7 separate regions of the Homo sapiens genome follow, and regions 1, 3, 4, 5, 6 and 7 are each reported to be linked to region 2. The links are microRNA targets in miRTarBase. Many come from high-throughput screens and were not tested one by one. Region 2 holds a microRNA gene; each other region holds the end of a gene's coding sequence.

Evidence for each region. Region 2 holds the annotated microRNA hsa-let-7g-3p (CUGUACAGGCCACUGCCUUGC, at 1,369-1,389, shown strand). A microRNA usually pairs through its seed, bases 2 to 8, with sites in the 3' UTR of a target mRNA and lowers its output. Matches are read on the target gene's strand: a 7mer-m8 pairs with bases 2 to 8, a 7mer-A1 pairs with bases 2 to 7 and ends in A, and an 8mer does both.
Region 1: the mRNA of VEZF1 is a reported target of hsa-let-7g-3p. Seed matches in the 3' UTR shown: 7mer-m8 at 1,576-1,582 and 7mer-A1 at 2,019-2,025.
Region 3: the mRNA of FNDC3A is a reported target of hsa-let-7g-3p. Seed matches in the 3' UTR shown: 7mer-m8 at 552-558.
Region 4: the mRNA of NFIX is a reported target of hsa-let-7g-3p. Seed matches in the 3' UTR shown: 7mer-m8 at 1,142-1,148.
Region 5: miRTarBase lists LHFPL6 as a target of hsa-let-7g-3p. Seed matches in the 3' UTR shown: 7mer-A1 at 813-819.
Region 6: miRTarBase lists AGPAT5 as a target of hsa-let-7g-3p. Seed matches in the 3' UTR shown: 7mer-A1 at 642-648 and 7mer-m8 at 1,104-1,110.
Region 7: miRTarBase lists MAGED1 as a target of hsa-let-7g-3p. The part of its 3' UTR that is shown has no 7-base or 8-base seed match.

What each region holds. Positions count from the first base shown.
Region 1 is chr17:57,971,672-57,974,754 of GRCh38, reverse strand. It overlaps VEZF1 (vascular endothelial zinc finger 1), which reads left to right. Exons shown (of 6, transcript NM_007146.3): 6 at 1-3,083. The coding sequence ends at 282. Among named protein-coding and RNA genes, the nearest start is that of VEZF1, 15 kb to the left of the region's middle.
Region 2 is chr3:52,266,586-52,269,668 of GRCh38, reverse strand. It overlaps MIRLET7G (microRNA let-7g), which reads left to right and starts at 1,308; the gene lies at 1,308-1,391. It overlaps WDR82 (WD repeat domain 82), which reads left to right. Exons shown (of 9, transcript NM_025222.4): 3 at 2,651-2,717.
Region 3 is chr13:49,206,883-49,209,965 of GRCh38, reverse strand. It overlaps FNDC3A (fibronectin type III domain containing 3A), which reads right to left. Exons shown (of 26, transcript NM_001079673.2): 26 at 187-2,885. The coding sequence ends at 2,571. Among named protein-coding and RNA genes, the nearest start is that of MLNR, 12 kb to the left of the region's middle.
Region 4 is chr19:13,094,270-13,097,352 of GRCh38, forward strand. NFIX (nuclear factor I X) reads left to right here. Exons shown (of 11, transcript NM_001365902.3): 11 at 366-3,083. The coding sequence ends at 380. Among named protein-coding and RNA genes, the nearest start is that of LYL1, 7.0 kb to the right of the region's middle. RefSeq lists a silencer at 1,249-1,338 and an enhancer at 1,650-2,513.
Region 5 is chr13:39,341,394-39,344,468 of GRCh38, reverse strand. LHFPL6 (LHFPL tetraspan subfamily member 6) reads left to right here. Exons shown (of 4, transcript NM_005780.3): 4 at 415-1,577. The coding sequence ends at 533. Among named protein-coding and RNA genes, the nearest start is that of LHFPL6, 260 kb to the left of the region's middle.
Region 6 is chr8:6,756,930-6,760,012 of GRCh38, forward strand. It overlaps AGPAT5 (1-acylglycerol-3-phosphate O-acyltransferase 5), which reads left to right. Exons shown (of 8, transcript NM_018361.5): 8 at 234-3,083. The coding sequence ends at 459. Among named protein-coding and RNA genes, the nearest start is that of MIR4659B, 13 kb to the left of the region's middle.
Region 7 is chrX:51,901,472-51,904,554 of GRCh38, forward strand. MAGED1 (MAGE family member D1) reads left to right here. Exons shown (of 13, transcript NM_006986.4): 12 at 82-467; 13 at 675-883. The coding sequence ends at 459. Among named protein-coding and RNA genes, the nearest start is that of MAGED1, 9.4 kb to the left of the region's middle.

The DNA.
Region 1 (3,083 bases), not on the chromosome of region 2:
AATGTTTCAAGTGCAGTTAACATAACCAGCCCAATGAACATAGGGCATCCTGTAACTATAACCAGTCCATTATCCATGACCTCTCCTTTAACACTCACTACCCCAGTCAACCTCCCCACCCCCGTCACTGCCCCAGTGAATATAGCACACCCTGTCACCATCACATCTCCAATGAATCTACCCACACCTATGACATTAGCCGCCCCTCTCAATATAGCAATGAGACCTGTAGAGAGCATGCCTTTCTTGCCCCAAGCTTTGCCTACATCACCGCCTTGGTAAACAGTATTATAAAATCAAAATATGGGTAAAAGTAAATATTTACCAGCAACTTAACTTTTAGTTGATTAAAGCAAAAAGTAAACCATGAAATTGGGAGATTTTATTACATTAGTTAATAAGAGTGTGGTAGCATTTTTCTCCAATTTGGCTGGGATTATTCAAAGTAGGGTGTGTATGTAACTTATCACTGGACCACTTTAGTTTAATCAGAAATTCCTTTTAGCTGACAACATTGCTTAAACAGGATAGTAGTTGGCAAGATGAAATGCCAGAATTAAAACCAATCATAAGTAGAACCCACTTCAAAATAAAAAAACAGCATTACTATTTCTAATCCCAAGGAATCACTTTATTGTAAACACTAGCAGAACTCTTCTCCCTATACAAGGTGGATGGCTGATTTTAACCTGAAATTTTAAATCCACAGATTGAGAGCTAGTGTAGAATTGTCTGTGTTTATTGTTTTTATGAGTAAATACATGCATTGTCATAATAAAATGCATTTCAGAGAATATGCATTTTACCTTTGGGAATATGTTAATTTCAGGCAGCATTCCCTATGGGAAAGGTGATACCAGCTCTGATATGCAAAGCATATGATAATTTATCATTCTAACTTCAACGTATAATAGGGATTGTGACCTGATATTTGGAGATGTAAATATTGCTCAGCATATTAATCCCGATGGAATATAGCATTGTAGTTGACTTTTTAAAAAAAAAAAAAATTTAAAAAAAATCTACAAATTGTGTTTTGCTAAGAAAAGCCTCAACTGACAGAGGAGAAGTCAAGTGTGTGGACAGGCAAGCTCCTAATAAACAGAGTCCAGTGGGATTCCTATTTAGGAGCCAAGGAGTACTTTGGAACAGTACAAATATATTGCTTTAAATTGGAAGACGCTGGAGGCACTGGGATGTGATATGCCCCTCTCTCTCCCAATCAGAGCCTGTTGATATTACAACAGGGACAGATGTGTTAGTTGCTCACTAGAGTTTATGTCTTATATTAAATTGTATACAGTTTTTATTCTAACCACTAACTAGGTAGTGTATGCCCCTTCAGAACATGCAGAGTGTATCTTTTTTTAAATTTCTCCTTCCGTTTCTTAAGTATTGCGCAGATTTGTTCAACTTTGTAAATATGGACATCACTTTTTTTTTCTTTGAGAAAACACTTGTATCAGCTTTGTGGTGTTTTCAGGGAGACAGCTGTCTGCATTCCCTGTAGAAACCCAGCAATGATTATGCACGTTGAGACATGTGCTTTTTATTTCTTAGCAAGATATTTTATCTCTGTACATAAAGTAGAAACCAAAAGCTAGGGAAACAGATACTCTTTACACCATCATGCCACGCATTGTTTTTAAAGCATTGCGTTAAAAAAAAAATTAACTAAACCAAGATGCTGTGATTTTTTAAGTTGCAATATGTTTTTGGTTTTTTTCATTTTTTAATCATTGCAGTTAAGAGAAATGGAAATTAGTTGTGTTAATCTTGCAGAATGTTTGCAGGACTGACTATCAAACTGGATGATTTCCATTTATACCCTACTGTGTCAGTTCAAGCATCAAAATACCTTGCATCTGAGACAGACTTCCTACATCAGGGACAGGTATCTGTGTGTCATTATACAAAACAGTTCTAGGGGGTTGAACTACATAGTAAAAAAATAAAATAAATAGTACTTAGTGTAAAATAATTTTATAAATGATCTTTTGTACTTTAGGACATTAAATTGTACAACTTTTGTATATATAAAAGCTTAGGAACTTTCTGTTTAGCAGGAAGGCAACACATTCCTACACTTTTAATGTATATGTTTGTTATAATGTCCATGTAAACATGCCCTATGTTTGTGCCTTTTAATTAGTTTGTCTCAATAAACAAAATGTAGAGAAAAATATGTAGCTATGACTTTGTTACAACTGTTCTTATCCACAGTACAAAAATGGTTTGTTTTTAATATGTAGAGCATTATGTGTGGACTACTGGAAGGACTCGTGTAGGGAAAGCCCAAGAATGACCTTGCTGAGGCCTGGATTGGGAGGCACAGTGGCCACATTTGGAGGAAGTTCACATTTCCTGGCATGCAGACCCAAAACTGGGTTCTGGCTCTGCCTGCTGGGATCTGTTATCTCTGGTGGGCTGGCAGTCATAATTCACAATTCAGACAGCCCAGGCTTCCTCCACAGTGGTCCAAGGAGCAGTCCTCAGTGGGGGCAGGTGTGGGCCCTACCCCTAAGCTAGAATGTGGTTGTCAGAACCCTGAAAGTATTAGTTCTAAAAAAAAAAAGATATATACTAGAAGTAATTGTTTTATCAATTCATTGTATAATAAACAGGAGTGAGACTTCATTGTATGACTTCAGTTAAAATACTATTTTGTATGCATTCTTTATTCACTTAAGAAGCTTGTCTGCAATAATAAAGCCACGTCATGTCTTCTTTTGGGAGGGAGAGAGTCGATGGCAGGAGGGGGTTTTGGGTGGGCCACTGAAAAGGGGTACCGAATAGGTTGTGTGATGAAATTCTGTGTCTTGGAACTGGAATTGAGTTTCGATGTTGATGAACTGATTCAACCAGGTGTTGAAGGCACGACAGCCACTGCTCTACGAAAAGGCAGAGTACGTTTTTCCCTTCTGGTTGTAACCTGGTTGAGAGCTTCCCCTTTATCAGATTGGCAGCTAAACAGTTGTATTAGATAATCCTTAAATCTGACATCCAGCCTGTTACGCTCTAGGGCTCGCTGCTTGGCCTGCGTTTGCTTTTTATTGTGTATCCGTTCCCCTCCTACGGTGTGC
Region 2 (3,083 bases):
AACCTCCGCCTCCCGGGTTCAAGTAATTCTCCTGCCTCAGCCTCCCAGGTAGCTGGGACTACAGGTGCATGCCACCATGCCTGGCTAATTTTTTGTATTTTTAGTAGAGACAGGGTTTCACCATGTTAGCCAGGATGGGTCTTGATCTCCTGACCTTGTAAGCCACCGTGCCCGGCCTATTCTTTATTCTTTTGAGACAGAGTCCTGCTCTTGTTGCCCAGGCTGGAGTGCAATGGTGCAATCTCGGCTCACTGCAATCTCAGCCTCCTGGGTTCAAGCGATGCTCTTGCCTCAGCCTCCCAAGTAGCTGGTATTACAGGTGCCCACCAACACGCCCGGCTAATTTTTGTATTTTTAGTAGAGTTGGGACTTCACCATGTTAGTCAGGCTGGTCTCGAACTCCTGACCTCAAGTGATCTGCCTGCCTCATCCTCCCAAAGTGCTGGGATTACAGGTGTGAACCACCACGCCCGGCCAGGATTCTGTTTTTAAACTTATTTCAGTGGATTATTGATGATCATCTCACATTTTGCAGTAAGGTTTTTTTTAGGCCGGTGGCTACATAGTGGCTCATGCCTGTAATCCCAGCACTTAGGGAGGCCTAGGAGAGTGGATCACTTGAGCACAGAAGTTCGAGATTAGCCTGGGCAACTTGGGAAAACCCCGTCTCTACAAAAAATACAAAAATTAGCCAGGTGTGATGGGACGCGCCTGTAGTCCCAGCCACTTGTAAGGCTGAGGTGGGAGGATTGCTTGAGCCCTGGAGGTCTAGGGTGATCACACCACTGCACTCCAACCTGGGTGACAGAGCGAGGCTCCATCTCAAAAAAACAAAAAAGATTTTTCTAATGTCATTCCACAAGGATAGCTTATACTGCTATTTTGGCTGTGCCTATCTCAGAGCAGAATGGGCGGAAGTCCTTTTTTCCATTTTTTTTTTTTTTTAATGAGACTCTTCTGCCTGTATTGATTTTTAGTTAAGTATGTCATTTCTACTTTTCATGCCTGTATTTCAGAAGTGGTTTTCTAAGGAAGCAGTGTAGTTAATGATTTTGGAAAAGAATGTAAAACCTTAGGATCCTGAGGAAACATGTCTATGTGATCATCCGAATGACTGGTTTATTTCTTCTGTTGGGATGTTTTTCTGAGTGATTAAATGAGGATTCTCCAAATGTGGTGCAAGATGAGGCAAATGTGTGGCACTTGTAGCTTTGCTGCCAAGCCTCTGCTGTGAGGATGTTCCCTTTCCTGTCTCAAGTGCATCCTGAAGAGTTCCTCCAGCGCTCCGTTTCCTTTTGCCTGATTCCAGGCTGAGGTAGTAGTTTGTACAGTTTGAGGGTCTATGATACCACCCGGTACAGGAGATAACTGTACAGGCCACTGCCTTGCCAGGAACAGCGCGCCAGCTGCCAAGTGGGGCTGAGAGGATGGCGTCACCCTGCTCATCTCTGGGAAACCAGGTAATGGGGAGGAAGTCTTTTTCTTCTTAGGGCAGGTGAGTCATTGTTAGCAGTAGAATAACTAGAAATACTTCGTAGTTGTCATTCAAGAAGTTTGAAGATGTTTTCAAGGAAAATTGTGTAGTGTTCAAGTTATGGAATATACAAATATCCCTATTCCCCTATTCCCCCTCCCAAGTTAAATGCCCTCTTATTAGAAAGCACCCCTGTGAACCCCTGGGATGACTCGATGCTTTCAACCCCTTTATTCCTATGTTCTGTTTGCCTTCAGAATGTTCTTTCTATGGTTTTCTTTCTGCATTTTGGTACCATTTTCCCTTAGCTGTTTCTCAACAATTTTTCCTTATTCCTAGTCTTTTTAAGGGGATAATACTTTTCTATTTTGCAGTTTTATTCTTTATGGCACTTCATTTCTCTACCGCCACCATGTTTTTTGTTTGTTTACTCTTTCAGATAGAATCATTTGGTTAAGAGTGTCTTATTTTTCCACAAGCACAAATCTCTGATTGTTCCTTTCTTTAATATTGTCAAAATCTCACTGCTATTACTCATTGGTATAAGAATTTGATTTTTTTAATGTCTTAAGATCTTTTTAACCCAGATCTTGACATCACTTCTCTGACGTTTTGTTTATTTTCATTGTAATTTGTGTGTCCAATTGAAGAATGTTCAAATGAGTTGAGGGTGGGTCAACATACTGATGGAGAACTCTAGACAAAAATTGCTGCCAGGGTTCAACCTGATCTTCAGTTTAACTGCCATGGCTGCTCACCTCTTTAAGTCTGTTAGCTCAACAGCCACATATTTTTCTTTAAGGTTTGCCATTCTGTGGACACTAGACCAGTATCTAAAATTATTATGTGTGCTTTACTTGTTTTTGTTTTTTGACCAGGGTATATTTGCAGGGTGGGAGTTGCATTGTAATTATGAAGAAACCAAATTGGTAATAAAAGGTCATTTCAAACATTGCTTTCTATGCTGTCAACTTAAGAACTCTGCTTTTGAGTTAGGTGAAATCTACATACCCACTCTTCAGCTGCAGAGTAGAATTATTCACCATTATTTATTCATGCCTTGCTTGGGATATAGAATACAATGGATTATTTGACCTTGTCTTTTTAAGATGAAAATGTAAAGTAAATTTCTTTTAAATAGTATGATATCATCATACCTTGTTTGTCTTTTTACAGATACTATTCGTTACTTGTCCTTGCATGACAACAAATACATCAGATACTTTCCTGGACATAGCAAAAGGTAAGACCCACGTATTATAGAAGCAGATAGTTCTTTTATCCCTGAGGTTACCCAGAGAATAGAAGGCTAGAGAGAGCTTATTAGTGAACTGAAGCTACTTCCTCACTACTGCTTGGCATTCTTCATCTTCTCTTAAATAGTCAACTCTTGATTTACTGAGGTTATAGAGGTGCAGAGGTAGGTGTTCAGAGATACCTCAGTTAAAATATAACTAGGCCCAGTGCAGTGGCTCACACCTGTAATCCCAGCACTTTGGGAGGCCGCGGCGGGCGGATCACTTGAGGCCGGGAGTTTGAAACCAGCCAGGCCAACGTGTCAAAACCCCATCTCTACTAAAAATACAAAAATTAGCCAGGTATGGTGGTG
Region 3 (3,083 bases), not on the chromosome of region 2:
CCACTACCAGGAAGGTTCTGGGCCTCTGGTGGTGGGCGAAAGAAGGTACTAGAAAATAGGGATGTGGGAAAGGCAAGGAGAGGTTAGGGATTTTCTTCCCACTGGGAAGTTTACCTTAGACTCACTGTATTCTTTATATGTGGAAAGGAAGTAAGATATTTCATGAGTTGCACAAAATCAAGTCACTAGGATAAAACTTCTAATTTTATTCTTTACTGGGCTTTATATAATAAATATACATCCTCTCATGTTGAAGATTTATATACTGTTGGGAAAAATGTTTTAAGCTCATTGGAAGAGGGGAGACCATAACATTTCACTTTCTTAAACAGGTAGCAAATAATGAATATATATGAATACAATAAACGTATCTCAAAAAGAATGATACAACTTTTATTTTCCATGGATTTTACAGATACTTTTGCTACATAGTTTATGTATTTTTATGAGATTTTTTTCATTTGTATGAAGTTCATTCAGCCTTATACAATTTTAAGGTGATATGTTTGGTAGTGTATCTATAATCTTTAAAAAGTTTAGAGTTTTTGGAATGTACAGTATATGAGGTAAAATCAAGATTACATTAAAAATTGTTTTCTCCTCTGCACTAATTTTGCAGTGAGGCTCAAATGGCAAGTATACTATTAAATGACATTTACTATCAAAAATAGGAAGTTCATTTGAATTACTATGAAAAACATAAGCCACTGTAACTTGACACAGTGGCACATTTTACCATTTTAGACATTCAACTATATATAAATCTCTGGGCTATTACACTCAGACTCATTTGTACTGCCAAATGTGGCACTTTAAAGAAGTTTCTAGAAAACAATCGCAATCACTGTTGTTTCTGGGGAAGGTTATCACCCTATACATAAGAGATTAAATTTAAATAAAATGTAAACATACAGTATATTATAGTGACAGGTCATTCTTACCACTTAGAAAGGCCAAGTTTATCCATTTCTTTTTTGAACAAGGGTTAATGTTTTTCTACAGCACAGATCATTTGACATAAAACTGTTACAATACATGCCCATTCTATTATAAAAGAAATTCTTCAGAGATCTTCAAAGCACAAAAAATACGTTCTTTTTTCAAAGACTGACAGAAGTGCTTAATAATCACTAAAATGCCAACCTCAGCAACTAAAAATTAGTGATTCGCTATCCTAAAATTCAAATAATAAATTAAAAAAGCTAGTTACAGGTGTTTTACGGATAACAGATGTGCTAAAACAAGAATTGTAGATAGTTTCATTATAAACTGTATTATTACTTGCAGTCATCGACATCTAGGCAAGATGTACAATGTGATACTTGACAAAATTCAGTCTGATCATCCAATAACTCACAAATGCAAGCTCACAAAACATTAATGAATTATGCAATTGCAAAGTGCTCTAATGCAACATTAACCACATGCAATCAACAATTTGGAACAGTATCCAAACAGACATTATACGTTAAACGTTTAGTTTTCAAGAAAGAAAGCAGCTTGAAGTTTACTGGTGCAAATTAATTTTGTCTTCAGATTTGGTGCCCCAAACAAAAAGGTTAGGTTTGATTATGAATTCTGATGGTGGTGGCAGCAGTTATGGGAGAAGCAGCAGAAACTTATGGGAGTTCTTCAAAATTAGCCTATACCAGACAGAGTGAGTGTATGTATGTAATATATACTTCTACACTTGTTATGTGTATATGTGTACACTTGTTATATGCCATATATGTATGTGTATACCCTTATACACATACATATAGTTCAAAGGTTCACAAAACAGAAGCCAAATAGGTTTGAAATTCAATTTACTTTTATGATTACTTTCTAAAAAGTATTTAAAAGCACTCAATTCTTTTCCATGTTCTCAAGACCTGAAGAGGTACTTTTTGAGTAAACATCAAAATATTTTTAGGCCAAGTAAACTGTCTGTTCTTTAAGTACTTATCTGTGAATTCATGAATATATATTTATAATGAAGAACTCCACATTTATCAAAGAAGCTTTTCTTCATGCATACTCTTTCATCCAGTTTTTGTTTCTAAGCCCCTCCAGTTACTCATCATAATCCCACTTACCAAATAATTAAGACAAATGAGGAGGTAGAAATATAGCACTAGATTGCTTTCACAGCATCAGACTTTAACATTTTATATAGCATGTTAGTGTAAATTCTATTCATTCTGAATTTTTCACTTGGTAATAATCTTTAAAACAAACAGATCAGGTTATCACTGTTACACTCATGCCGATTCGTCAAAATATCCATTCTAAATTGTTGCCTCTTAGAAAGTTTTTCTATAAGAAGGCATTTGTTAAAAAAAGAGAGAGGGAAAGAAAAAAAGAAGACCCACCCTAACAAAAAAAACAAAATTGATATTTTTGTGGCTTGCATTCTAATAAAGTGCCAGCCTCTACCTAACAATATAAGCACTGAAAATGGCAAAAATGATGTGCTATAGTCTCAATGCCAGTGCTAAATGCCACTGTTTTTTATAAAAGCAATACAGAAATAATTTTAGTACATGACAAAATAAAATGTAATAGAGTTAAAAAATAAAGTTATATTTTCACTTGATTACAAAGTACTGAATGATAAAGGCAATCAAAATGGAAAAGAAAGCAAACAGCACAAGGATGACGGCAGCACACTGCTCGTCACTCAGTGCCCGTCGGGTCCTTGTGCTTTCCACAGTGTCTCTGTTGGTGCTGGCTGGTGGTTCAGTCCTCTGAGAGATGAAGAGCACTGTGGTGCTGTAGGGACCTACGAGGTCCTGGTGTCCCAGAGAGTCTTGGCACTGGCGAATGGCACATACACGGAAGCGATATTCACAGTTCAGCTGAAGGCTGGAATACCGGAAGGAAGAGTCGGGACCCTTGTAAATCTGTTAATAAAATATTAGAAGGAAGAATTACGTGTGAAGGCTGGACAGAAAATGTGTTAAAACTGGCTAGTGTTAGAATTGTTTTTCATGTGAAAGCCAGTGAATGCCATTGATTTTATCTTTTAAATGACATGTTAAAAATACCTGTCCATTAAAGTACTTATCTGTTTGTTGCATAGGGGCAAGAGAAATTTCAAA
Region 4 (3,083 bases), not on the chromosome of region 2:
CTGGCATCTTCCCCACCCTCCAGGACCCACACAAAAACCTAAACAATTGGAAACATGGCCAGATCTCAGGCCTGTGCCAGCGCCAGCCATGGGGGTCCCACCCGCTGGGCACAGTGCCCACGGGAAGGCCAGCTGGACTCTAGCACTAGGGGCAGAGTCTCTGAGGGGGCGGGGTTCTCGCAGGAGGGAGGGAGAGAATGGGGATGCCCTTTCTTCTCCATGGGAACAAGGTGGGTGGTGGCTGCCCGGCACCCTGGCTCTTTGGGAGCTGGACCCTTGAGGGGCCAGGTCACTGGGCCAGGTAGGAGTGAGATGGGACCTGCCCCAGCTGTTCTCAGTATCGCCTCTTTTTCATCCTGTTTCAGTCCTGGTTCCTCTGATAAGATCGACAAAAGAAACAACAAAATGAGAAGAAGAGGTTCCTCGAAAGGGGGGAGAAGAAATTTTGAGAATGGAAAAATCCCCCAGCCCAGCCCAGCCCCACCGAAAAGCAAAAATTACACGTCGTCAGCCACTCAGCCCTTCTCTCCTCCAGCCCGGGGACCCCCGCGGGCCCCAGAAGCAGCCCAGTTCTCAGAGAGCCCTTGGAAGGGGTCTCGGTGGAGCTGTGCACCAGCAGCCAAGCAGAAAGAAACACGCGACATGGACTCTGTCAAGTAGAGGACAGAAAGCAAGAAAGGATGCAGAACTGCCTTCCTCCCCCTGACCCCGCCCCGGCCTTCTGGGGAAGGAACAAAGTCCCCAAACAAAGCAACCAGCACAATTCTGAAGGGGCCTGGCCTCCACCCTCACCCCTTCCTAGGGGAACCCCACCCTCCACACAGCCGGAGCTGCCCTAGGGAGCCTGGAGGGCCAGCTTGTAAAGATGATGGGGTTTAGATCCCTCAGGCTCTCCCCTCCAGACTCCGCCCTTCCCTCCCTCCCTCCCTCCCTCCCTCTCTGCCAAGGCTCCAGCTTCTTCCCCCAGCTGCTCCCGACCAGGAGGGGGAGAGCAGCCTCCACTTACCCCACCCCACCCTTGGGCTAAAAGCCCCCAGGCGGGCAGGGGGTGACCCCTGGAGCTAGTTGCGTGTCCCAGAATGGAGGGTGTTCTGACACCCCACCCTGAGCCGCAAGAGCAGTCCTGGGGCCCTGGACCCCTCTGTACAGTCCGTAGGAAAAAGTCGGAATGCTCTCGACGGCCTCGTCCCAGCCTGGGACAGGCCCCCTTTCCCCTCTCTCTGCAGGCCAGGAGGGCCTCCTTCCTGCCACGAGGGAGGGGAGTCGGGCCCCAGGTCGCCCCCGCCCCCAGCCCTGCATGCAGGTGCCCTCGCTCCGCCCCATCAGTTCCTGCCCCTGCCCCTCATGCAGACTGCCCTGCTGGGGCCGGGCCGGAGGGTGGAGCAGAAAGGGGACCCCGGAGCCGAGCGAGGAGGACCAGGCAGCCGCCGCTGCCGCGCTAAGCCACCACCTGCGCTTAGGTAGGCGTCCTGCTCGCCGACTTTCAGTTCCTTGGGAGGGTGTTGGGTGTCGTCCTTTTCAAAAGTGTTTTGGAGCTTTCTGTGCCCCCCGACTTTCCCCCGCCTCCCCGCCCCCCACGTGGCCACTTTTCTCTGGATTTTAGCTGTAATGTCTTTACTCTTTATTTAGGGGTGGGGCATTCATTGTTTGGGTCTTTTGCTGTTGGAATGGGAACTCCTCCTCCATTTGAGCAACTTGGGAACAATTTGGTAACACACCACAGGAAGTAGCTCTCCCCCCCAGCCCCCTCCTCCCTCAAGGGAGGGTTGGGGGGCCTGTCCAGAGGGTCTTCAGAAGCCCCCCTGGGAGGGAGGGGAGGATGAGCACGCCCAGCTCCCCTCCAGGGTGTGACTTGGCCCCTCTGGCTTGTCTTTCTGTGCCTTACTCCTCCTCCTGCGTCTCCCGTTCCTGGCCCCTTCTTGAGTCCTTGTGCCTCTCTCTTTCTCTCTCTTTCTTAATTGTATGAAAACACAAAGCACAGGTCAGGATCCTCTGAGAGAAAATCAACATTGCACCACGTAGGGGTGGGCTATGGGCTGTATTTATTGTGAATCTAGTTTGTGAGGCTGTGGCCCCGAGCTGGCGGAGGGAGGGAAGAGGAGGGAGTGACGGGAGGGGAGGAGGTCAGCGACCTGGGGCCGTAGCGGCAGGCGAACGGTGCCTGCTACCCAGCTGGAAGCCACAAGGTGGCTGGCTCCAGGGGCGGCTTTTGTTGGAAGTTGAGTGAAGCCCTCCCCCTGTCCTCAGCGTGCAGCCCTAGAGGACCCCAGGGCTGAGGGGCAGTGGATCCTGCGGGAGTCTCCCGGGGCGTGGGGAGTAAGGCCCCGGGGGTGGGGGGCCGGGTGGGCCGGGCGTGACGCGCGGTCAAAGTGCAATGATTTTTCAGTTCGGTTGGCTAAACAGGGTCAGAGCTGAGAGCGAAGCAGAAGGGGCTCCCTGTCCGGCCCACGTGCCCTTTCCCTCGACGACAGTCGAGGGCTCGGGCTCTGTGGGACTGTGGGAGCTAGGGTCTGCGGGGCGCCTGCCCGGGCGAGGTCGGAAGCTGCAGGCCAGCTGGGCCCGGGCCGGAGCGTGCCCGGCGGGGCTGCCCGGGCGGGCAGGGGGTGGGGGCTGCTCCTTTCCCAAGTGGTGTTGTGAGGGGCAATGAGGGCAACAGGAGATGTGGGGACGTGTTAGGAGAGAAAAAAAAAAAAACAAAAATATATATGGGGGAAATTAACTTTTTTTTTTCATTGAACCAAGTGCAATGCATCAGAGAGTTTTCCTATCTTTGTATGTTAAGAGATTAAGAAAAAAAAATTCTATTTTTGTTGTAATGTCCTCGCGGCTCTGGGGACGCTAAAAGAACCGGGCCTGCCCCGCCCTGCGCGGGGATAACGAAAGCTGAGTGTTTTTCCCTTTTTTTTGTTCGTTTTTAGTTTTTTTTTTTTTAAGTCGTTTTCCTGCGTTGACGAGGATGATCTGGGGTTTTTATTTGTTTCGTCGTTCGTTCTGTTTCGGTGGGAGGGCTGAAGGAAACGTTCACATTTTAGAGTTTAAAAAAAACACCTCGACATTTAAAAAATCAACCAACACAAGATCAA
Region 5 (3,075 bases), not on the chromosome of region 2:
CCTCAAAGTGGCCCTTTTGCAGAAGGATTGCATCAACATTTATATTTTTTTCCCTAAAGTACTTTGTTACGCAGGTGAGCTTGGGTGATGTAAGTTACAATTAACTCCTTCATCTCCTATCCTGGTTGCTGCCATTCTTCTCTATTTTTGGCCAGGGTGTGGATATTGGTGGAGGAGACTAGACTTCTCTTAGCCCGTGTGAGAGGTAGACATTGAGATCCTTCTGAAATGCATCCAGCCATTCTTGCTTTCTTCACTGTCAAGATAACTTTCAGCACATTATTATTCCATTTAAGCGAGGATACCATATTCCTAAAGGGTGTTTCAGAACCCACACACTGGAAGCAATAAGAAACCCTGCTGCAAAATCATCCTCATCTGTGACTTTCTTCTTTCCCCTTCCTTTGTCCTTAGGGAAGTGTGAAATCGGCTGGGCCTACTACTGCACGGGAGCAGGTGCCACTGCCGCCATGCTGCTGTGCACGTGGCTGGCTTGCTTTTCGGGCAAGAAACAGAAGCACTACCCATACTGAGATGGAGCTACCAAGAGCAGACAGAGGAGAAGATGGGCCAAAGGGGCTTGGAGAGGTCAAAACATCCACCTACCTTCAAAAGGTGGGATAGTAGTTCTAATCCAATACAATGCTAATAAAATGAAACCCGATAAAATCAGGAACATGATATAGGAAGGAAGGATTGTAGGAGATTTGTGGGGGAAAAAAAAGGAGAGTATAGAATGATGGAGAAAAATGGACCAAAGGCTAAAAATATTGCAGGGCATCGGGTGTTTCTATTCCACAGAGTATTGTTAATGTACAACACACACACACACACACACACACACACACACACACACACACACACAACAAATCTACATATACAAACAAGGGTTTGGGTTTTAGTTTTTTTTTTTTAAGGTGAGGACTCAGAAAATCAAAGGGCTAGTAGAAACAGTGTTATGTTGGGAAGCAGGGTACCCCCAAAGATGTTCCCTGTAGGTCACGGCACTCCCAAAAGCACACAAGCACATACAGACATATGCATCCCCACACACGCCTATGCACAAACGTGGATTATCGCACAGACTGGGAGGTTTAGTGGTGCATTTCTCCTCTGTTTTCTTTTTAATATACATTTAAAATACAGTATTATCACTTTATAAAACATACATTAAGCCTAATAAATGGACCAATAAGCCAAACTATCAGTATTTTGTATATCCTGCATAAACTCTAATTTAGTTCCTCAACATATTTTCAGTGTTTATGCAGACCTTTAGAGTTAAGCCTTTGTATTTCCATGTTATTCCACAATATGCAATATTTCTCTGAGTAGCTTCTGCTATGATATTCTTATGAAGAAAAGGGGCAACTTTCTGTCCACTATAGGAGAGAATTCAGCCGAAGATATGAGAGTAATGAGAGACATTTTCCAGTCATTGGATCGTGTTTTCTTTTGTCCATTATTGTACTGTGCTGTACCACATTTATTTCTATATTCATTTTGTAAAAAATTTAAAAGTGCTATTTTGTTTGTATTTGAAAATCTCTGTGAATAAATTCTCTCTTTGATCAATAGCTAGATGAGTCATGGAGTGTTAATTCAGTCATCGGATTTGCTTCTTTAATTTCTCCAATGTAGCTCTTCAACTACTATAGTCCTGTAAAATTTCCTTTTCTCTTTTAAGGCCTCTCATTAATTCACTCACTAATCAACCAGGCATTGTTCTAGGCACAAGTGTATTAAAGATGAGTAAGACAGTTTCTGCTTTCAACGTGAATTCTTTGCAACCAGAATTCTAACTTCCTGCTTGTTACATTTCAATCATAACCAAATTCTGAGGACAGAAGAACTTCAGGTCTGTTTTGTATTAAGTTTGAGAATATGGGTGGTATTCAGATGTGATTTAGGGCAACAAGAGCTAGACTGTGGTTCAGGAGGTGACTGGACTGACAGTCACCAGCATGGTGACACGACTGTTACAGTTGCCAGTGACTTGCTGTTCCTCCAGCTTCTACAAAGTGCTGGGTTTCTTCTGTACTTCTGTGTCAGGGAAAATTTTATATCACTGCCCTTCAGGGATGTTGGCCATTTGAAAAAGCTTATCTCAACAGCCCTGCCCCTCCAGCAGAAAGTCTTCACCAAAGAGAAAGGTTTGGACCCTCACATGGCCCCTTAACAGAACTAGCTCTTTCAGGGCTAGGTGTGATGGCTCACACCTGTAATCCCAGCCGAGGTGGGGAAATCACATGAGGCCAGGAGTTCGAGACCAGCCTGGCCAACATGGCAAGACTCCATCTCTACTAAAAATACCAAAAAAAAAAAAAAATTATTAGCTGGGCATAGTCATGCACTCCTGTAATCCCAACTACTCAGGTTGAGGCACAAGAATCGCTTGAACCCAGGAGGTGGAGGCTGCAGTAAGCCGAGATTGCAACACTGCACTCCAGCCTAGGCAACAGAGCGAGACCCTGTCCCCACCAAAAAAATAAATAAATAATAACAAATAACAAAAACTAGCTCCTTCAGGAGCAAAGATTGCATTCTGAATATTGGATCTAGCCTTTTGTTTAGTAAGCCTGAGATATTGTAGCAAATCCTTAAGAATTCAGTTTCAGTTAGCTTCTACATTCATTGTACTTTTCAGATTTGGCAATTGAACATGCTGGCTATTTATTCATGTAAGTACATTTTCTATGCTATCTATACACATTTATCAATTTAGTTTGAATATCTGACTATTCCACTTGCTTCTGGTACTTTTAATCATTCCAGGATGAGAAGCCATGCTGCTCTGGAAGAACAATACAGGATCTGACCAATAAAATTCTACACTCTGAGGCTTTGTTGGTGTGGAGAAAGTCATTCCACTCTCAGATGCTTAATTCATATTGTGCTGAATGTGATTTGATTGTGTCTCATTGTCTGCTGAGCAGGGGCTTCTCCACTCTGTGGTTTCCGGCAGAGAAGAAAAGATTGCACTTTGCTTCCTCAATTAGCCCATTATTTTCATGTATAGCTGGTGCTTTTCAAATTTCTTTTAACTGCACCTTCCTGTAGAGTAGTGTTGTGACT
Region 6 (3,083 bases), not on the chromosome of region 2:
ACCTGTTGAAATATTACATATACAATTCATGTATACTAATCATAGAGCATATTAAAGATATTTTAGAAGACTAGAAACTTCTATTAAACCAAGTTTCTGGATGTTTCCGTATTCATCCTTATTTTCCAGGGACCTGCATAACTTTTCCAGCGTGTAATAGCTACCTGATTGATATTTTTTGAATTGAAATACTGAAGTGACTAAAATCTAAACTTTTTCCATTCTGGCCATAGGATGCTTATAGAATTTTATGAGTCACCAGATCCAGAAAGAAGAAAAAGATTTCCTGGGAAAAGTGTTAATTCCAAATTAAGTATCAAGAAGACTTTACCATCAATGTTGATCTTAAGTGGTTTGACTGCAGGCATGCTTATGACCGATGCTGGAAGGAAGCTGTATGTGAACACCTGGATATATGGAACCCTACTTGGCTGCCTGTGGGTTACTATTAAAGCATAGACAAGTAGCTGTCTCCAGACAGTGGGATGTGCTACATTGTCTATTTTTGGCGGCTGCACATGACATCAAATTGTTTCCTGAATTTATTAAGGAGTGTAAATAAAGCCTTGTTGATTGAAGATTGGATAATAGAATTTGTGACGAAAGCTGATATGCAATGGTCTTGGGCAAACATACCTGGTTGTACAACTTTAGCATCGGGGCTGCTGGAAGGGTAAAAGCTAAATGGAGTTTCTCCTGCTCTGTCCATTTCCTATGAACTAATGACAACTTGAGAAGGCTGGGAGGATTGTGTATTTTGCAAGTCAGATGGCTGCATTTTTGAGCATTAATTTGCAGCGTATTTCACTTTTTCTGTTATTTTCAATTTATTACAACTTGACAGCTCCAAGCTCTTATTACTAAAGTATTTAGTATCTTGCAGCTAGTTAATATTTCATCTTTTGCTTATTTCTACAAGTCAGTGAAATAAATTGTATTTAGGAAGTGTCAGGATGTTCAAAGGAAAGGGTAAAAAGTGTTCATGGGGAAAAAGCTCTGTTTAGCACATGATTTTATTGTATTGCGTTATTAGCTGATTTTACTCATTTTATATTTGCAAAATAAATTTCTAATATTTATTGAAATTGCTTAATTTGCACACCCTGTACACACAGAAAATGGTATAAAATATGAGAACGAAGTTTAAAATTGTGACTCTGATTCATTATAGCAGAACTTTAAATTTCCCAGCTTTTTGAAGATTTAAGCTACACTATTAGTACTTCCCTTTGTCTGTGCCATAAGTGCTTGAAAACGTTAAGGTTTTCTGTTTTGTTTTGTTTTTTTAATATCAAAAGAGTCGGTGTGAACCTTGGTTGGACCCCAAGTTCACAAGATTTTTAAGGTGATGAGAGCCTGCAGACATTCTGCCTAGATTTACTAGCGTGTGCCTTTTGCCTGCTTCTCTTTGATTTCACAGAATATTCATTCAGAAGTCGCGTTTCTGTAGTGTGGTGGATTCCCACTGGGCTCTGGTCCTTCCCTTGGATCCCGTCAGTGGTGCTGCTCAGCGGCTTGCACGCAGACTTGCTAGGAAGAAATGCAGAGCCAGCCTGTGCTGCCCACTTTCAGAGTTGAACTCTTTAAGCCCTTGTGAGTGGGCTTCACCAGCTACTGCAGAGGCATTTTGCATTTGTCTGTGTCAAGAAGTTCACCTTCTCAAGCCAGTGAAATACAGACTTAATTTGTCATGACTGAACGAATTTGTTTATTTCCCATTAGGTTTAGTGGAGCTACACATTAATATGTATCGCCTTAGAGCAAGAGCTGTGTTCCAGGAACCAGATCACGATTTTTAGCCATGGAACAATATATCCCATGGGAGAAGACCTTTCAGTGTGAACTGTTCTATTTTTGTGTTATAATTTAAACTTCGATTTCCTCATAGTCCTTTAAGTTGACATTTCTGCTTACTGCTACTGGATTTTTGCTGCAGAAATATATCAGTGGCCCACATTAAACATACCAGTTGGATCATGATAAGCAAAATGAAAGAAATAATGATTAAGGGAAAATTAAGTGACTGTGTTACACTGCTTCTCCCATGCCAGAGAATAAACTCTTTCAAGCATCATCTTTGAAGAGTCGTGTGGTGTGAATTGGTTTGTGTACATTAGAATGTATGCACACATCCATGGACACTCAGGATATAGTTGGCCTAATAATCGGGGCATGGGTAAAACTTATGAAAATTTCCTCATGCTGAATTGTAATTTTCTCTTACCTGTAAAGTAAAATTTAGATCAATTCCATGTCTTTGTTAAGTACAGGGATTTAATATATTTTGAATATAATGGGTATGTTCTAAATTTGAACTTTGAGAGGCAATACTGTTGGAATTATGTGGATTCTAACTCATTTTAACAAGGTAGCCTGACCTGCATAAGATCACTTGAATGTTAGGTTTCATAGAACTATACTAATCTTCTCACAAAAGGTCTATAAAATACAGTCGTTGAAAAAAATTTTGTATCAAAATGTTTGGAAAATTAGAAGCTTCTCCTTAACCTGTATTGATACTGACTTGAATTATTTTCTAAAATTAAGAGCCGTATACCTACCTGTAAGTCTTTTCACATATCATTTAAACTTTTGTTTGTATTATTACTGATTTACAGCTTAGTTATTAATTTTTCTTTATAAGAATGCCGTCGATGTGCATGCTTTTATGTTTTTCAGAAAAGGGTGTGTTTGGATGAAAGTAAAAAAAAAAATAAAATCTTTCACTGTCTCTAATGGCTGTGCTGTTTAACATTTTTTGACCCTAAAATTCACCAACAGTCTCCCAGTACATAAAATAGGCTTAATGACTGGCCCTGCATTCTTCACAATATTTTTCCCTAAGCTTTGAGCAAAGTTTTAAAAAAATACACTAAAATAATCAAAACTGTTAAGCAGTATATTAGTTTGGTTATATAAATTCATCTGCAATTTATAAGATGCATGGCCGATGTTAATTTGCTTGGCAATTCTGTAATCATTAAGTGATCTCAGTGAAACATGTCAAATGCCTTAAATTAACTAAGTTGGTGAATAAAAGTGCCGATCTGGCTAACTCTTACACCATACATACTGATAGTTTT
Region 7 (3,083 bases), not on the chromosome of region 2:
TCCACTGATGGACAGGTAGGTTGATTCCATATCTTGGCTATTGTAAATGGATTTTGTTTTGTTTTCTATTCCTCATCTCAGGTTCAGAAAAGAGACCCTCGTGACTGGACTGCACAGTTCATGGAGGCTGCAGATGAGGCCTTGGATGCTCTGGATGCTGCTGCAGCTGAGGCCGAAGCCCGGGCTGAAGCAAGAACCCGCATGGGAATTGGAGATGAGGCTGTGTCTGGGCCCTGGAGCTGGGATGACATTGAGTTTGAGCTGCTGACCTGGGATGAGGAAGGAGATTTTGGAGATCCCTGGTCCAGAATTCCATTTACCTTCTGGGCCAGATACCACCAGAATGCCCGCTCCAGATTCCCTCAGACCTTTGCCGGTCCCATTATTGGTCCTGGTGGTACAGCCAGTGCCAACTTCGCTGCCAACTTTGGTGCCATTGGTTTCTTCTGGGTTGAGTGAGATGTTGGGTAGGTACATCACTTTGGATTGGGCAGTTAGGGTCTCTGGGGGATATAGGGTCCATGGGGTTGTATTTATGTGCATGAGCTAGAAGTATTAGGAAACTCATTGTAGGGAGATGAGGAAAGTATGGGGCAGCACTCTTTGGTATGTATATTCCTTATTATTTGATATATATCATTGATTTTTTTACTTCTTCTTTCTTATGTTCACAGATATTGCTATCAATCGCAGTAGTCTTTCCCCTGTGTGAGGCTGAAGCCTCAGATTCCTTCTAAACACAGCTATCTAGAGAGCCACATCCTGTTGACTGAAAGTGGCATGCAAGATAAATTTATTTGCTGTTCCTTGTCTACTGCTTTTTTTCCCCTTGTGTGCTGTCAAGTTTTGGTATCAGAAATAAACATTGAAATTGCAAAGTGAATTAGATGTGCTCTCTGCTTCTTTTTTTCCCTATATTTGGGGAGCGAGCAACATGTTTATGTGGGAGAGACAGGACCTCAGCTGTAGTTTGAAGGGTAGATCAGCTTTCAGCAGGTGGAAATGTGGGAAGATCTAGCTACTGGATTGGGATACAAAGGCAGGATCAATGAACACGAGACCCAAGAACTAGTATAGTTTATTCAATAAATATCACTTAAGTGACTCTCATGTGATAGATATGCTGCTAGGTGTCTTGGAGTGACATTGCGAGAAGTCGCATAGTGAGAGAGGGTATTGGTGCTCAGACAGTTGCACTTAAGAACACAGAGGAGGTGGAGCTCCAGGTGATGATAAGGTCCAGAGAGTAGGTAGTTGAAGGGGACAGAAGGTGACTATTCTGGAGATAAGGGGTCCATGGCCTGTGATTCTAGGGTGTTGGTTATACAACCCATGTGGAAAGTGAAAGAACTCCAGGAGGGCAGCAGGAGTAGGAGTAGAGAACACTATGAGTTAGATGCCAGAGTCTCCTCTGTGAGAAGGAAGATATACCCCTAGCCACATTGCTCATAAAGGGATGGGCTCACAGGCACTCCTCCCCATCTCTGGAAATGCTGCCCAGGATCCTGTCCCTCTAGGAGGCCCTCACAATCTTCCCACTTGCACAGGACCGGGGCTGCCTCCTCGAGACAGGATCTTATGGGCAGTGAAGGAGGCCTCACAATGGCCTCTTCTCTCCTGCAGGGAGAAAGAGAAGACTTTGTTACCTCAAGAACAAGAATTACAAAGTAAGACAAAGCTCCATGCACAGGCTTTGACTGTGACTGTGAGCAGGAACTTGGCTTGAGCTGCTGAGTTCTATGCTGGAAGCAAGGCTCTCCCACTGAGGACAAAATTAGGCCTAGGCCATGACTTCCTTGGGTGCTTGGTGGTATCTGGACATGTGGACAAGGGCAGAGACGGGAGCTCCTGGGGCACAAAAAAGAGCAAAGGCAATTTGGCCTCCTGGGAAGGGTTTGGTAGTGGGTAGGGATGGTGTCCACAGCTTCCTTAGGTTCCTGAGTGATGTCCACATTCTGAGGAGAGAGCCCAGGATTAATAGGAAGGAGACAGCAGTGCAGGGCCCCAACGCCTCCCCTGCCTGTTGTCCTCATTGCCAGGCTCCCCTCTTTCAGCCAGGCCTGGATCCTGACCCTCAGGTAGGCCTGGAGGAAATCTCAGCCTGAGGCCTTTTTGGCAGGGATTGCACCAGCCCTGCATCTCCATGATGCCTCAGGTCTGGGCTGTAGTTCCTGCATTTCTGGGTGCTGTTTTTTCCACCTTTTGGTGCAAAACACCCAGGCTCGGTGGGGTTGGGGCAGTCTTTCTGTGGAGAAGGTGCTTCCACCATGTGCTGTGTCCACAGCCAGCTTGGGTAATGGAGTCCCCCACCTACCTCAGGCTTCTCCCGGTGTGTGTTCACGGCCTCCACATTCAGGTGGACGGACTCCACCTTGCAGCCTTGGAAAAGAACAATCCATCTTTCCATAAGTCCCCAAGGTAGGCACAGGTCTTCCATGGGGTATCACCTCCCTCCCATCACCACCCACACTCCCAGCTTCATACTGTGTACAGATCATGACTTGCCTGGGGAATTTAGACAGCTGTGTGATGTGTGGGGAAGACACCAGGCCTAAGAGGCAGCCAACAGGGCATCCTGTCACCTCTGCCCCTAACAGTCTTAGTTCTCTGAGCTTTAGTTGCTCATTTGTAAATGGGGATGGAGATGAGAGATGAACTCTACGGCTGCCCACAGCTCTTGAGGTCCGCAGGACATCAGTCGCATCTGTGTAATATTGATGTAGCTCTGTGGATCCTCCAAGCCGTGTTAGGTGCTGAAGAGGTGCAAGAGTCCTGGGGCTACTGCCTTGGGTGATCAGTACCAGGCAAAGTTTATCAGGAGGACAATGTGGTTGTGGCAACACCAGGAGTGTGGAAGATCACGTGGGAGTTTTAGGGAACCTGAAGAAGGAAGAGGGTGCATCTTTGGGGTTTGGGGCTGCATCTTTGGGGTTTGGGGCTGACAGAGGAGGCCTAATGCCTGTGGAAGCTCTGTGGACTGCACCTTACTCCAGGCTTCAGTAGGCCATTCTGCTCTGTCCACACCCCAGAATAGGTTTGATTCTGTCCCTTCCCTGCTCATGAAATTCTTGTGTAATTTGCAC